Regions from separate parts of the Homo sapiens genome. Here region 1 is linked to region 2. Evidence: fine-mapped expression QTL. A gene starts in region 2. The other region holds a variant in brackets. All regions are shown on one strand. Distances are between the middles of the regions. Region 1 overlaps TMCO4 (transmembrane and coiled-coil domains 4). Region 2 holds the start of HTR6 (5-hydroxytryptamine receptor 6).

Region 1 (2,989 bases), 23 kb after region 2:
TACACACACGTGTATTCACACATCTAAGTGGTTTTCAGGGCCCTGGGCTCAGGGTGGTTGTCAAGGCACAGCCAGTGCCCCTCTGCAGCAGGACACATATTTAGTGGCTGCAGGGCCTGAGAAGGAACCTAAGTTTGGACTCTCTGAAAAGCTGGGGTACCAGCCTTGGCTCTGTCTCTTACCAGTAACTGGGCCAGTCCTCACAATTTCCTGAACCACAGCTTCCCCATCTGTAAAATGAGAGTCATGACCTTGAATGATTGCTATAAGGAGTTCAAGGGCCTGGCACTTCATAGGAACTCAGAGAATGCTAGCTTTTGATATTATGTTCCTATATGATCCAAAACACTTTTTGTTTTTCTTAATTTTTTTTTTTTTTGAGACGGAGTCTTGCTCTGTTGCCCAGGCTGGAGTGCAATGGCATGATCTTGGATTACTGCAACCTCTGCCTTCCAGGTGCAAGCTATTTTCGTGCCTCAGCCTCCCAAGTAGCTGGGATTACAGATGTGCACCACCACACCTGGCTAATTTTTGTATTTTTAGTAGAGACAGTATTTCACCATGTTGGCCGGGCTGGTCTCGGACTCCCAACCTCAGGTGATCCGCCTTCCTTGGCCTCCCAAAGTGCTTGGGATTACAGGCGTGAGCCACTGCACCTGGCCTTTTAAATTTTAAATGTAGAGATGGGGACTTCTTATGTTCTCCAGGCTGGTCTCAAACTCCTGGGCTCAAGAGATCCTCCTGCTTCAGCGTCCTAAATTGCTGAGACTATAGGCATGAGCCACGATGCCCTGCCCCAAACACTTTTAAAGAGACATCATGCAATTTGAGTTAGTGATACCTACCTAAAGGAGTTGCTGGGAAGAAATAATACAAACCATGAAGCACAGTGCCTGGCACCCCAGGAGGTACTCTGTAAATATGAGTTCCCTTACCTTAGTTTCCTACGAGTGGGGGATGGAGAGTAGGGAGTTAGCTGGGCTGATCCATTTGGGAGCCCAAGATGGCTGCTCAAGCTCCAGCCATCACATCTGAATTCCAGCCAGCAGAAACTTCAGACCCACAGGGACAAGTGATAACTGCCTCTCTAAGGACAAACAAGAACTGCCTCCCTATACCTTTTTAATGTTGTAGATGGCTGGTGCCAGTGCTGGGTAGAAACAGGCCAGGAAGGAAGGGAGGTGTTGGTACCCACTGGCTGCAGCTGATACCAGATGGAAATTCCACTGAGAGCTGTCCTAGAACACACAGCTCTGGCCCTCCTCGACTACAAGTTGGTCTGGGTCTCAGGCAACCCTAGTCCCTGAGCCACCCCTCTGCAAAGACCCAGGGGAGCAGTTGCTGGGCAGAGCTCTGGTTTTACAGTTAGCTGGAGAGATGAGAGAAGAGGGGTGAGGCAGGTCGGGAAAGAGCCTCTTCTCAGCACCAGAAAGTTCTGGTGTAGCCGATACTGCGTGAAGATTCAGCCCCTGACCATCTCCCAGGCTGTCTTGATTGAATCTGCCAGCTGCCTGGATACACGCCGGATGTGACTGGCGTGCAGAAGCCTTCCGTGGCTTCCCGTGTTGGCAGGGGCCTCTGTGGACACCCTGTGATGGCACTCATAACCTGTCATCGTCACATGCTCATGAGGTTGCGTTCCCTGATAAACTGAGCGCAGGGGAGCAGAGACCACTTCTCACTCACCTCTGTGCCCCACAGCCAGCCCCGCACATCGTGGGGTTTCCGTGGGAACCAGATCCC[T/C]GCAGGTACAAATGGGGCCCAGCCCTTCCTGTTTCCTGCCTCAAAAGACACCCCAACTTACCCAAACAGAGGCTGCCATCACCCACCTCCATCTGCCCCAGTGACTCCTTCCAAGCCCATCAGGCCCCTTTGGGTTCTTTCACTTCTTGGACCTCAATTTCCTCATGTATAAAATGAGGCTAATAAAGAGACCTATACCACGTGGGCTGGCTGTGTGGCTTTGATAATACATGTAACAGGCTTATTGGCACAGGGTTAGAGGCCACTACCAGAAGCTACAGAGATGTGTGAATGCAGGCAGTACTGAAGCAGTGGTTAACAGCCCAGGTTCATCCGGCTCTACCACTCACATGCCGTGGCACCGCCTGCAGCCTCAGTTTTCACACCTGTACAACGGGTTACTACCACTATGCAGGACCTCTATGAGGATCAAATGACTTACCCCGTAAAACATGTGAGTTGTTGGCTACTGCGGTTATTATCAAGTATCTACTTTGTGCCAAGCCTTTTGCTAAGTTCTAGGCCACCTGGCATTTCTGCTGGGACATGGAGAATCTTGCCGTGGGTTGGATCTCTGTGCCCCAGAAGCCTCATGAGTTGGTCCCTGGGGTGGCAAATCCCCCACCCACTGTAACCTTGTCCCTGTGAGGAGAGACTGAGGGGCAGGAGGGCAGCTTCATTCACCCCAGAGATGCGCCCTGCCTGCAACAGGGCCAGCCCAGTGGGATGATCACAAAGGGCCCTGCTGCGTGGTTGGCCCAGCAGGGAGAAGACAGGTCCTGTGGGTCTCTGTTGGGAGCAGAGGGTGGCCAGCATTTCCCCAACAGCAGTAATGAAACCTCCCTTGCCAGCAACTTCTCCAGCAAAGCATTTTCAAGGAAAACAGGAGGCCAGCACAAAGGCAGTGCTAATTACCTCTAATTACCCAGAAGAGGAAAGCACTGTTTTTTGTGATGTACTCCTAATGTGATAAAGAGCTATTATTAGGCAGGAGCTGGGAAGCTGCCACGAAGACAGCCTGAGGAGGGAGCGGAGTCTCCAAAACTGCTGGTCCCAGAGGCAAACAAACTGGGGGTGGTGGCAGGGGCAGGCCGGGAGGGACTAGGATTAAAGGAGGGCCTACTATGCACCAAGCATCTTACATGCGCTGCCCTGGAAGTTAGGCGTTTCCACCATTTCCTAGATGAGGACACTGAGACACAGAGAGGTTAAGTAACTGGCCCAAGGTCACACAGCCAGTAAACCA
Region 2 (2,500 bases):
TTTGCCATGGGCATCGAGCAGATCTGGGTTTCAGGTCCACTTCACCACTTGCTGCTGGTGATCTGGGGCAAGGCCCTTGGCCTCTCTGAACCCCAGTTTAACGTCTACCTCTCAGCATTATTGTAGGGGTCGGAATAAATAACTGGAGGAGTAGGAACCGTACAACAAAGCCCCTGGGGACAGCGCAGGAGCCTTCGATTTGGAAAGTATTATTTTTCTGTTTCTGTGGAGAAAAAATGATCCCACCCCGTTCTCTTTATACTACATTTTCTTTTTCTCTTTCTCTTCTTTCTTTCTCTTTCTTTCCTTTCTCTCTTTCTTTCTTTCCTTTTTTTTTTTTTTTTTTTTTTTTTTTTTGACAGAGTCTTGCTCTGTCACCCAGGCTGGAGTGTGCAGTGGCACAATCTTGGCTCACTGGAACCTCTGCCTCCCAGGTTCAAGCAATTCTCCTGCCTCAGCCTCCCGAATAGCTGGGATTACAGGCTCCCGCCACCACGCCCAGCTAATTTTTGTATTTTTGATAGAGACGGGGTTTTACCATGTTGGTCAGGCTGGTCTCGAACTCCTGACCTCAGGTGATCTGCCCACCTCCGCCTCCCAAAGTGCTGGGATTACAGGCGTGAGCCACCTCGCTGGGCCCACTTTCTCTGTTGATTATGCTTATTGTTTATTGTCTGTTTCTTCCACTAGAATGTAAGCTCCATGGAGGTGCGGATCTTTGTTTTGGCCACTGTAGTGTCCTGATGGGTCAGAACAGTGCCTGACATCTAGTGGATGCGCCTTAAAAGATGCATTGAAGTATCTGTTCAATGAATGAATGAATAACAGTATTAACCTGCACAGCAGTGTTAGGCAGAGACTCTTCTCAGCCAGAGGGGAGACGTACAGAGGGAGGTCACACCCAGGGGAAACCACACCCCACGCCTCTGCCTGCAGCGACTCTTAACACACCTGGCCTGGGGATTCTCAAATCTGTTCACGCTCTGTTAGACTAGGAGCGCCAACAGCTCAGGGACTTCATCCTTAGTACCTGGCCCCTTTGGGGATCGGGATGGTTTCTGCGGGAAAGGCCCTGGGGAAGGTTAGCTTCTTGCTCAAACTAACGGTGAAGAATGCCCAGAATTACTAACCCATTTTACAGATATGGCAACTGAGGCCCAGAGGGGTGTCAGGCGATTTGTCCAATATTTCCCAACTCCTGGCTCCCCTGAAAGCCCGGTGACCCCGTTGTGAGTGGGCAGGCACCCATTAGAGAGCAGCCCCTGGATAAGGGCAGGTCACAGCCCCCTGCTCCCAGTTCCGCCTGCGCCGCCGCCACGTGTGGGTTGGGAGGGGCATCTGAGGGTGTGGGGGCTGCCACAGCCCGGGAGGTGACCCCTCGCAGCTGGGGCGCTCTGATCTTCGGCCCACAGGCCCGGGGTGCCGGGACCCCGCCCTCCTGCAGGGCCAGGGCTCGGCTCTCCCCGCCCACCGCGAGGCGGGGCGCACGCTCCGCGGCGCGGGGACCGCGCGCTCCAGGCTGCACCCGGCCTCTCCTCCGCGCGTGCGGGCCCCTCGCGGCGCCTCCCGGGCTCGGGAGACCCGGTCCCGCCGCCCGCCCGGCCCGCGGCCGCCTCTTCCTCTCGCAGCCCCGCGGCGCTTGCCGCAGTCGCAGGCGGCGGAGCAGCCAGAGCGCCCCAGGTACCAGTGCGGGCGGGAGACGGAGGCGACCCTGCTGCCGGGTGGGGAGGGGGCGCCGCGCGGCCGCTGCCCTCCTCTTCCCGCGGGGCCTGGCGGCCCCGGCGAACCCCCGCGCCGCACAGGCCGTGTGCGCCGGATCCCGGTGCCTCCGCGCCAGCTGAGACCTGCCTTTCCCAGGGGCGGCTTTGCTCCGGCCCCTAGGCCCCCGCCCTGGTACCCCACACGCCCACCGGCCGCGGGGAGCCTGCTCCGGCCCGAGAGCGCCCATTCACCCCCCTCACCCACCTCCCCGCGTTCCCACTTCCCCGCACTCTGACCCGGCCGGACGCCCCTCCCCTATCTTGCCGCCCGCCCCCTCCAGGGGGCTCTGCTCCCACCCCAGGGAGCCCATCCGACCTCTGCTTGACTTCCCGCCGCTTCCTTCAGGGGCCTCGGCTCATCGGGTGCCCCTCCCCAAACTTCCAACCCGTTTGCTCCAGGAGTTCCTGCCCCATCCCCGAGGGCGCCCAAATAGCCACACTGTGTCCTCCTGTAGTCGCTGCCCCCTGACCTAGCGCGACCCAGCGCCCCCGCCCATGTCCCCCCACTCACCTCCCCCGGGGGGCGTGGTGAGTCGCGGTCTGTTCTCACGGACGGTCCCCGTCCAGCCTGCGCTTCGCCGGGGCCCTCATCTGCTTTCCCGCCACCCTATCACTCCCTTGCCGTCCACCCTCGGTCCTCATGGTCCCAGAGCCGGGCCCAACCGCCAATAGCACCCCGGCCTGGGGGGCAGGGCCGCCGTCGGCCCCGGGGGGCAGCGGCTGGGTGGCGGCCGCGCTGT

The links. PIP is the estimated chance that this variant, and not a neighbour inherited with it, causes the effect.
Region 1: its variant is fine-mapped to the expression of HTR6 in whole blood (INTERVAL, PIP 0.99).

Annotation. Positions count from the first base shown.
Region 1 is chr1:19,686,591-19,689,579 of GRCh38, forward strand. The region is part of intron 15 of TMCO4 (transmembrane and coiled-coil domains 4); the gene reads right to left. Among named protein-coding and RNA genes, the nearest start is that of HTR6, 23 kb to the left of the region's middle. RefSeq lists an enhancer at 2,458-2,972. The variant T/C (reference allele first, on the strand shown) is at 1,744.
Region 2 is chr1:19,663,354-19,665,853 of GRCh38, forward strand. HTR6 (5-hydroxytryptamine receptor 6) reads left to right here and starts at 1,522. Exons shown (of 3, transcript NM_000871.3): 1 at 1,522-2,500. The coding sequence starts at 2,401. RefSeq lists a silencer at 1,336-1,565 and enhancers at 1,344-2,316, 2,317-2,500.